Regions from separate parts of the Homo sapiens genome. Here region 2 is linked to region 1. Evidence: fine-mapped expression QTL. A gene starts in region 1. The other region holds a variant in brackets. All regions are shown on one strand. Distances are between the middles of the regions.

What was found. PIP is the estimated chance that this variant, and not a neighbour inherited with it, causes the effect.
Region 2: its variant is fine-mapped to the expression of ZNF280D in monocytes after triphosphate RNA (Kim-Hellmuth 2017, PIP 0.95).

What each region holds. Positions count from the first base shown.
Region 1 is chr15:56,730,323-56,735,850 of GRCh38, reverse strand. It overlaps ZNF280D (zinc finger protein 280D), which reads left to right and starts at 2,342. Exons shown (of 22, transcript NM_017661.4): 1 at 2,342-2,393. RefSeq lists a silencer at 2,323-2,592.
Region 2 is chr15:57,163,098-57,168,097 of GRCh38, reverse strand. It overlaps TCF12 (transcription factor 12), which reads right to left. Exons shown (of 21, transcript NM_207037.2): 6 at 1,632-1,696. Among named protein-coding and RNA genes, the nearest start is that of SNORD13D, 110 kb to the left of the region's middle. The variant G/CACAG (reference allele first, on the strand shown) is at 2,964.

The DNA.
Region 1 (5,528 bases):
AGGATGCCATTATTTTGGACCAAACTCCTGCACTAAGCCCCAGCAGACTAGACTAAAAACCAACATGGAGTTACCCATGCTCACAAAACTGAAACTGAGTTGTTATGTGGCCTTCTGAGAAATCAGGAGAGAGATAACAGCCTAATTTCCCAAACAGGCCAGTTTAAACCTTCAATCCCCATGATAATGAAGTTCCCTGTTTTAAGTCGTTTTTGTTTGTTTTTGAGACAACGTCTTGATCTGTTGCTCAGGCTGGACTGCAGTGGCAGGATCATGGCTCATTGCAGCCTTGAACTCCTGGACTGAAGGAATCCTCTTGCCTCAGCCTCCTCAGTAGCTGGGACTACAGGTACACACCACCACACCTGGCTGCTGTTGTTCTTACAATATTAATCTGGAGTAACCTGGTATTAACCAATCAGTTTTCTTTCTATTATTCTGTCTCAGTGCCCCACCTTACAAGGAAAGTAACTTTGAAAAGACCAACTTGTTTTTTGTTGTTTCTTCTTTCTTCAGCCCATTTTCTGTCTATAAAGCCAACCACATCTGCTCCATTCATGGGAACACCTATTCTGTTTTACTGAATGAAGTGGTGCCTGAATCTAGAATTGCAATAAAGCCAACCGAGATCTTTAAATTTGTTGTAATTTCACCTGACACTGTAGCATGCTTTGCTAACCTTTAGGGACATTTGAAAAACGATGTCTTAAGAATGTTCCAAGATTTTGGAATTTTTAAACTTTCCATGTTTGCTGTTTTGACTATTTTCTGTCTTTTCCTGTAAGGTTTATTTTTCAGGGCCAGCAGAAAAGGGAAAGCTGGGTAGATGATCCCAGGCCCATGTGGGAGAAGGATAGGTCATGGTTACCTCCAAGTACACCAGATCTGTAGGAGTGATCCAGGTGGTCTTTGGGGAAGATTAATTTGGGGGCAGTAATCAATATGGAGACTACAGTAATGATAAACACTTGAGAAAAACTGGGGAAAGCCAGATGAGAGAGAAGAAACTGAATTCGAATAGGAAGATGAATTAGCAAGATTCAGTGATTGAACAGGGTGTCTGTTATGGATCCTAACAGGCAAGATTTCAAGTCTTGGTCACTCACAAGCTGCACCAGTAATGCCATTGCTCTTGAGAAGACAATCAGTTTAGGAAACTTTCCTTACAGATCAGAATACAACCTTTAGCAAGTATTTACGCAAGCAGTATCTTGGCAAGTGTTCTTCTTGTAAATTTCTTATACTTCTCGTTGTCAAACTTTAAAAAATGCTATTACAGGTTAATATGCAGATGGCAGAGTTAGGAATTAGAGTGTGCAAGTTAATCATTCTAATTGGGTCACTCTTGTCATAGCCAACTAAAAGAATGGAGAAGCCAGTGCTGGGGGAAGCCCTCAGGGCACATAACATTGCTCTAAGAATGGAATTCTCAGCAAGCCTGGCTGCTGAAACCGCCTGCTGTAACCTGAAACAGGTTTTATCTTCAGGTTTTAGCTTCTCAAAGAACCTGCTGCAGCTGTAGGGCAAGCTTTACCAAGCCCCTTCCCTCACCAGTCAGAACTAACCAGCTACCCAAAACTTTACTAAATGTCAACGAACTTTCTAGAAAAACAATAGATAACTTTTTTTAAAAAATAAAACCCCCTAACTCCTCTTTGTTCTTCTGACATACTGAAGACCACCCTGTATGTGTAAATAACCTGAACTTGCAATTCCTGTGTCCCAAATAAAACGCTAAATGTACAGATTCGTCTCTTCGTATTTGACCTCGACAGGGAACGCAAGCAAAACCACACATTTAAAACAGACTTGGTAAAATCAGCTCGTTATTTAAAGAAACGGACGATTCCTTTTTCTCTCCTGGTTTAGTCTTCGACCCACAGGCCCCTTGCTTCTTTCGAACGGCGGCTGTATCCCATGACCTTTTCACTTTCCAAGCCAACGGACTGGGGGTCGTTACACACGCGGAGGGCCCGGAACGCACGGCTCCTCGCCTGCAAATTCCGAGCAGTCCGGATTTTGGGGCTGCCTCCCGGCCACACCAGCCAGCAGCTCGCACCCACATGGAGGCAGGGCCCTGGCCCTCGCCCCGGACCGGCGCGTGGCGGGGCGCGTGGGTCTTCGAGGGCCCGCGACGCGGCGCACATGCCGGTGCCCGCCTCCCGCGTCGGCGAGAAGACAGGGAGCTCGGACACGGGGAGGCTGACCCGGAGCCTACCCATGAGGCAGCGCGCCGGCTGCACGAGAGCCCCCCCCTTTCCACGGCTCGGCTGCCAGCTCCGCAATGGGAGCCGCCGCCGTCGCCGCAGTGTAGTTTTTCGTGCTCCTCCTTTTCCTCCTCCTCTTTCTCCTCCTCCTCAGGGCTCCAGTCAGGCCGATCCGCTCCGCTCACGGTAAGCGCCCCCCCGCCCCCGCCCGCCCTGCGCTGCAGCAGGCAGAGGCCCTCCCGCGCGGCCTGCGCCGCCTCACTCCGGGGGCGCTGGACTGGGGGTCTTGAGGCCGGCGCGGGTCGTCGGGAGCGCCCAGAGCGCGGGGGAGGAGACCGGCTGCGCGGCGGCGGCCGGACCGCCATCTTGCGTCGGCCCAGGCGGGGGAGGAGGTATCCCGGCGCGACGCGGCAGCCGCCTCGGCTGCTGCAGGCCTGGGCCGCGCAGGCCTTCGCCTTCTGCTCCTCCGCCACCTCCTCTCCCAGGCGTGTGCGCCTGTTTGTCCCCAGCCTGGTTTTGGCTTTTCTCTCTGGAGGCAACTCCCTTTGGTACATTTTGTGCCGATGTTTGGCCAAGACCCATGGTCCTCACACCACAGCCCACCCCCGTGTCTCTTCAGTCGTAGGAAAGGAGACCAAAGGGGATTCGGGATTTGCAGGCACAGGGCCCCTCATTTTGCCCAGATGACCGGTCGTTCCACGTTTGCACCCTCATTTTTGTCAAAGAGACCTCCCCTCCTCTGCCATAGAATTCCCGTTATTGTCTACAGAAGAAGGGCCCTGAGGAGAAACGTGGAGTTGGAGACAAAATTTTCTGAGCTTTGCAAGGTTCACTTACTGAGACGGAAAGAATGATCTCACTCTGAGGTTTTAGCCTGCTCCAGCGATGGAAGGAATTCCTCCCAACTTATCGCAAGTTTTAACGCTTTTAAGGAGAAATCTGCTGGAGAGGAAAAACGTCAAGGTGAACCCGCTTCTGCAAGCACGGGAGACCTTTGGCCAAAGGCCTTTGTTTGCGAAGATTTGTTAAAAAAAAAAAAATCTGTCATCTTAAATATTTGGCTTTATTTTCAGGTTTGGACAGAATTTGTCTTTTTTAGTGCCATGAAACATAAAATGGAACGCTAGAAGGACAGTTTTAAAGCACAAAAGCTGCCTCTTAGCATCTGTAAGGTGTCCTGCTTTGGGGGACTGCTGTGCCAACTCCAGCTGTCTCCACGCAGAAACTTAACCAGGGAAGGCACTGGTTTGCTTATACCATTGTTAGGGCTGTGTGCCTCTGATGTTTTAACATCACTACAAATACTGTTGTAATTGTGTCTTGCTTTTGTGCCTTTCATTGATAACCCCTGATTTGTATCTCTTAGCCCCTTTTGAAGTGGTCTGGGTTGCTGGAATCATTTTGCAGGCGAGGAAACAGAGCCTCAGGGAGAGGACTTTAATGAGGTCACTGACTAGGAAGAGCCAAGGCCAATTATATTAATAGAACCTTAGGTCTTCTGACTCCTTCTCCGGTGCTCAACTCTAGTATATACCATTTTTGTGGGAATGAGGTAGATGAGAATAGGCAAGGAGGCTCACTTAAAGATTTTAAGAAACATTACTCAGTTGCCCTTTCGTTGATATTTTTATACTTTACTTTTGAAATGCGGTTGTTATGTTGCCCAGGCTGGTCTCAGACTCCTGGGCTCAAGCTGACCTCTCACCTCAGCCTCCGTAGCTGGGATTACAGGTGTGCACCATCTAGCCTGGCTTTTATATTTTTATTCTCGAGTTAATTTCTTAACTTTGCAACTTGCTATTTTTTTCGAAAATATTGGAAAGTTAAATAGCCCATTTGAACACTTAGTTTTAACGCTACCTTTTTGCCATATTTGCATTTTTCCACTTATCTCACATTCTGTTTTCTGAACGTTTCAAAGTGCATTACGGATATGACAGTTCAGCCCTAAATGCTGTATGTGTGTCAGTATGTATTTTGTAAGAGATCAAGGCCATTTTTCTGTGTAACAATACCGCAATCACACTTAAGAAAGTGAAGAATATTCCTTAAAATCTAACGTGGTGTAGTATATATTCACATTTCCCCCCATTTCTTCAAAATTCCTTTTCAGTCTTTTTTTTTTTTTTTTTTTTTTGAGATAGGTACTTGCTCTGTGTCCCAGGATGGAGCGCTGTGGAGCAGTCTTGGCTCGCTGCATCCTTGACCTCCTTCCTGGGCTCAAGCCATCCTCCCACCTCGGCCTCCTGAGTAGCTGGGAACCCAGGAGCACGCCACCACACTCAGCTAATTTTTGTATTTTTTGTAGAGATGGGGTTTTGCCGTGTTACCTAGGCTGGTGTCAAACTCCTGGGTTCAAGTGATCCACCTGCCTCGGCCTCCCAAAGTGCTGGGATTACAGATGTGAGCCACAGCACTGGGCGAAATTGACCTTTTGAAGAGACCTGGTCTGTAGTCTTTCAGAATAACCCATATTCCATGTTTTAGTGATAGTTCCTCCTGATAGTGTTTAAATTTGTTCCCCCTATCCTCTCTGTTTTCTCTAAACTTGGATTTGGGTCTAAAGGCTTGAATATATTTAGGTTTAATATTTTTTTGACAGGAATACTTCATAAGCCATGCAGTATGCTTCATTGCATACAACATCCAAAGGCACATAAAGTAGGCTTGTCTTATTAATAATCCTAAATTTGATCTCTTAGATAAGGTGGTGACAAGCTATCTTTCCATTGTAAGCATTTCCTTCTGCAATTAGCAAGTCATTTGTGGTGTGATATTTTGGCATTAGTAGTTGGTAGGAATTTACCTGCAGTAATCTGATAAACACAGTTGGGAGCAGTCGTTTAGGTATGGCTTTGGAAGTTAGGAAGAAGAAGAAGTGGAGACAATTCTGGAGGAAATACTAACCCATCTACTTTAGGGAACTTGGAATGCTTCTATGTGTTGGCATCAGAGCCTAGGGAGACTAGGAGAGAGGAGGCAGAAAGTAGATGTCAGAAAGCTTTGCCTTCTTTGAAAGTTTGCTTAGGACCATTTTAGCCATAGTAAGCTATGGTAAATAGAAAAGTTCTGAAGTAGTTTGATGTTGGAGGATTGCAAGTGCTTCAACTGGAACATCTGTCCAGTTAGGCTACTAATCCAGTCCTTTTTCATTCCAGTGTTCTATTAATCAGCATTGGCTCACTGAAATAGCAGTTTTCACAAATGAAAAGTCAACTGTAGTTTTAGGTGACAGGAAATTGGATATTTCTATTGACAACATACTTTGTTATTCCAAAAGCAAGTTTTGGAAGATGAGGAATACTTACGACATATTCACTA
Region 2 (5,000 bases), 430 kb before region 1:
TGAAGTGATCCTTCTGCTTTGGCTTTCCAAGTAGCTGGGACTACAAGTATAAACCACAGTGCCCAGCTCATAATAGCCAATTTTAAGATATCAGTGTGATGTCAACCATACTTGCTAAATTCCTAAAAGTTTAACAGATTCGGCTCTTGTCAGCTAGTAAGAGCTGGTAAGGCAAAACACTGGCTATGACACAATGCTAATCTATATATATTTTAAATGACTAGAATAAAATAAAGCTAACCATAAACGGAAAATAGAGCAATCATTAACAACACTAAAACTTTAAAAAATCACTTGGATGAAAATAGAGTAAGACTGCTTGGTCTGAAGCCAAGAAATCTGAGTGTTGGTCCAGTAACTACCCCCAAATCTATGATATTTAACAAATCACTTATTCAGACCATGCCTATTTGCCATTAAGGACATGGGAATATATGATCCTGAATTTTTACAATATATTTATTTTCTCTCTCTCTTTCTTCCTTTCCTTCTCCCTTCCTTCTCTTCCCTCCTTCCCTCCTTTCTCTCTCTCTCTTTTTGAGACAGAGTCTTACTGTCACCCTGGTTGGAGAGCAGTGGTGCAATCATGGGTCACTGCAGCCTTCAACTCCTGGGCTCAAGTGATCCTCCTGCTTCAGCCTCCCAAGCAGCTGAGACTACAGGCATGCACCACTACACCTGGCTGATTTTTACATTTTAAGTAGAGACAAGGTCTCACTATGTTGCCCAGGTTGGTCTCAAACTCTTGAGCTCAAGTGATTCTCCTACCTCAGTCTCCCAAAGTATTGGGATTACAGGCGTGAGCCACCGTGGCCAGCCTACTACAATACATTATTTTATAATGGGAAGGCATATCACAAAACAGGATGTTATGTAAAACTCTCTTAGAGGCACAATTATGAAATATGTATTAAATGGAGTATTATTAGCATGGCAGTTAAAACCGGCTCACATGCCCATGCCTGAAATTAGGGTGGGCCCTCATGTAGAGCATGCAGATGGCAGAAAACAAATTTAATATGTTCTGCCTTTCCTTTCTATTCTTTTTGGCTTGATTCTGATGGGAATCTGCAGGTGAATTGTGTGTTCAGGATTCTCAGTCTAAAGATATGAGGAAAAAGGCAGAAAAGATGCCCATTAGCAGAAGCACAAAATGCTAGAGAAGGTGGGAGAGTCGAAACAAAGATTCCAAGTCAGGGAGGGTGTGAAGCCTAAAAATTGGTTACATGCAGGATTGAAAACAAAATACTTCCAATATTAATGATCAGTTTGACATTACAGGATATTTAAGCTATGCAGATCAATCATATATTCTTTATGTACCACCAATTACGTTTTCTGTGAGAAAATATGCAAAAAAATTTCTCAGAAATGACAAGCATTTTGGAAAGCGGTAGCTTTGTTTCCAGTTAAAATGGAGGTGGGTTATGAAAATCTTTGATGATAAAGACAGCCTGGTAAACTGGGGAACTGAAACAATTTTAAGCAAAGAGAGCAAAAAACAACACTTAGTTACAAATTAAACAAACAGTAGTGAAATAAATTGGATAATTTCTATCTCATCTATTAATAGAGCCTTTATTTATGTGTTTAAAAACCATCTCATTGCTTTTTTTAATCATTAAACTTACTTGACAGCCTGGTAATCCAGTATCTCTGCTGTACAGGGAAAATGAGCCTCTCTCTGATGTTTTTCCTATAAAACAAAGAAATTAACTTTATATAAAACCCTTCATTTATTGACAGACAATCAAACTGCTAGACTATTCATGGTAATTATATTGCAGTTTTAAAATAGAAAGAACAAATTAGAAATAAGAGGATACAATTCAATAATTTGTAAAACTTGCTATCACTTCAGTCAGTCTGAGTCAAATTCTGGGCAGGATGTAGTGACTCACGTCTGTAATCTCAGCACTTTGGGAGGCTGAGGTGGGAGGACTGCTTTAGTCCAGTAGCTCAAGACTAGCGTGGGCAATAGTGAAGCCTCTCTACAAAAAATAAAAAATTAGCATGGTGATATATGCCTGTATTCCCAGCTACTCAGGAGGCTGAGGTGGGAGGATCACTTGAGCTATATAAAGTAGCATGTAAATACTTTATTTTCAACGTATAGTATTTTAAAACACATTTAAAAGAATGAAAGACATTTATATAGCCAACAATATGATACATGTACCCACTAGTTAGAATGTTTTCCCATGTTTGCTTCAGACTGAACCTTCTTCTCTTCTTTCTCTCTCAAAAATTAATACAGTATTGGGCCAGGCACAGTGGCTCACGCCTGTAATCCCAGCACTTTGGGAGGCGAAGGCGGGCGGATCACGAGGTAAGGAGATCAAGACAATCCTGGCTAACAAGGTGAAACCCTGTCTCTACTAAAAATACAAAAAATTAGCCAGGCATGGTGGTATGCGCCTGTAGTCCCAGCTACTCAGGAGGCTGAGGCAGGAGAATCACTTGAACCCAGGAGGCGGAGGTTGCAGTGAGCCAAGATCACAACACTGCACTCTAGCCTGGGTGACAGAACAAGACTCCGCCTCAAAAAAAAAAAAAAATTAATACAGTATAGACATAGCTCAAACCACACCTCTGGATAACCATTATCATAATAATGATGTGCATGATTACCATGTATGTTTTATACTCTTAAATATATATTCATGTTCTCGAACAATATACATTACTGTTTGCATTTAATATATTTAAACAGATGGAATTACATGGTTTTTATCTTGAAACCTGTATTTCCATATATTATGTTTTTGAGCTGTGTGTTGATAACAGATCCCTAGTTTGAGCATCTTTACTGCTATACAATATTCCATTATACAAATAAAACCAGTTTATATATTTCCCTACGGAAAGATAGTTTTTATATTTTTTTGTCATGAGCAATATTGAAACAAATATCCTTGCACATCTCGTGTACGCACACACACACACACACACACACACACACA[G/CACAG]ACATACATTCCTTCAGGATAGACACAAAGAAGGGAAACTGGTAGATTAAAGGATGCGAACTTTCAGCTTTATAGGCATTGATTGCCTTATTATTCTCAGAAGTCACCACGCCCATTTATATTCTTCCCAGCAACATGTAAGAATTCTTGCTGTGGTGGGGGGCAGTGGCTCACGCCTGCAATCCCAGCACTTTGGGAGGCCGAGGCGGGCGGATAACCTGAGGTCAGGAGTTCAAGACCAGCGTGGCCAAAATGGTGAAACCTCATCTCTACTATAAATACAAAAATTAGCCAAGTGTGGTGGCACACGCCTGTTAGCCCAGCTACTCGAGAAGCTGAGGCAAGAGAATCATTTGAACCCAGGAGGCAGAGGTTGTGGTCAGCCAAGATCGTGCCATTGTACTCCAGCCTGGGTGACAGGGTGAGACTCGTCTCAAAACAAAAAACAAAAAAGAAAAAAAAATTCTTATTGTGACTATACCCACTGATACGGTTTGGCTGTGTCCTCACCCAAATCTCACCCTGAATTGTAGATCCCATAATCCCGACATGTCGTGGGAGGGACCTGGTGGGAGGTAACTGAATCATGGAGGCGGTTACCCCCATGCTGCTGTTCTTATGATAGTGAGTTCTCACAAGATCTGATGATTTTATAAGGGGTTTTTCCCCTTTTGCTCGGTACTTCTCCTTGCTGCTGCCATGTGAAGGAGGACACTTTTGCTTCCCCTTCTGCCATGACTGTAAGTTTCCTGAGGTCTCCCCAGCCATGTTGAACTGTGAGTCAATTAAACCTCTTTCCTTTATAAATTACACAGTCTTGGGTTATGTCTTTATTAGCAGCGTGAGAACGAACTAATACACCCACAGTTCAAAACTTTCATGGCCAAGTATCAGTAATAGTATGGGCCAGTTCTTGAGGGAGAATGGAGGTTAAGTCTCACAGCGTTAACAATTAACAGTAGGGTACTCACTCATTTGTATTCAATATACTAAATGAATTTGCAAATGTGGTATTTTTGAGGCTCAGTAACTAAGGCCCCCAAACATGGTGCTTTGACATGCTGGATTGAAGCAGCAGCCTCAAGGTCTCTCTAAGTCATGCCCTCTCCACCAGACCCCTCCCCACAATCTTCTGTTTTTTGCAAAGCACAGAATGAAGTTGTTCTCTGAAATTCCCTATCTATTTAGAAACCGGACCTGCCAAAGAAGAACACAATTACCTTCCCTGAGTTTCAGTAATTCCTTCTATGCCAGTCATTCTAAGTTGGCAGTTCCCTTCAGTCTCTGCCATCTTCTTGTTCCAAGAAGATTTCTGATCCATTTTGATTACATGCAGGGAAGGCTGTGTATGTCAGAATTGCAAGTGTACAATCCTTTAATGGTTTTATTTTGTAGTAACTAGTTTTATTGAATTAATTCATTTATTTATTTTGAGACAAGGTCTCGCTCTGTCGTACAGGCTAGAGCACAGTTACATAATTACAGCTCACTGCAGCCTCCAACTTCTGGGCTCAAGCAATCCTCCCACCTCAGCCTCCCAAGTAGCTGGAACCATAGGTGTTTGCCAACACGCCTAATTTTCTAAAATTTCAGTTTCAGTAGAGACAGGGTCTCATAGTATGGCCTAGGCTGGTCTCAAACTCCTGGGCTCAAGCAACCCTCCTACCTCAGCCTTCCAAAGTGTTGACGTTACAGGTATGAGCTACCACGGTGGCCTAGCATTATTATTTCAAGGATTATTTTGCATATCTAAAGGGTTAACAGATGTCAGATTTAGAGTTGTAAAACTTCTACGTCAATTAGTCAGCATGACATGTATACTTTAATGAAAATGATACTAGTCTATTTCTAAGGTTTTTAAAAATAATTATGTATCATATCAATAAACAATTTTGAACATCCTATTCACCTGTAGAGTTTTTTTAATTAGTGAACTACATTTTTTATTTTTTATTTTTTTTGAGACTGAGTCTCACTCTGTCACCCAGGCTGGAGTGCAATGGCATGGTCTCGGCTCACTGCAACCTCCACCTCCTG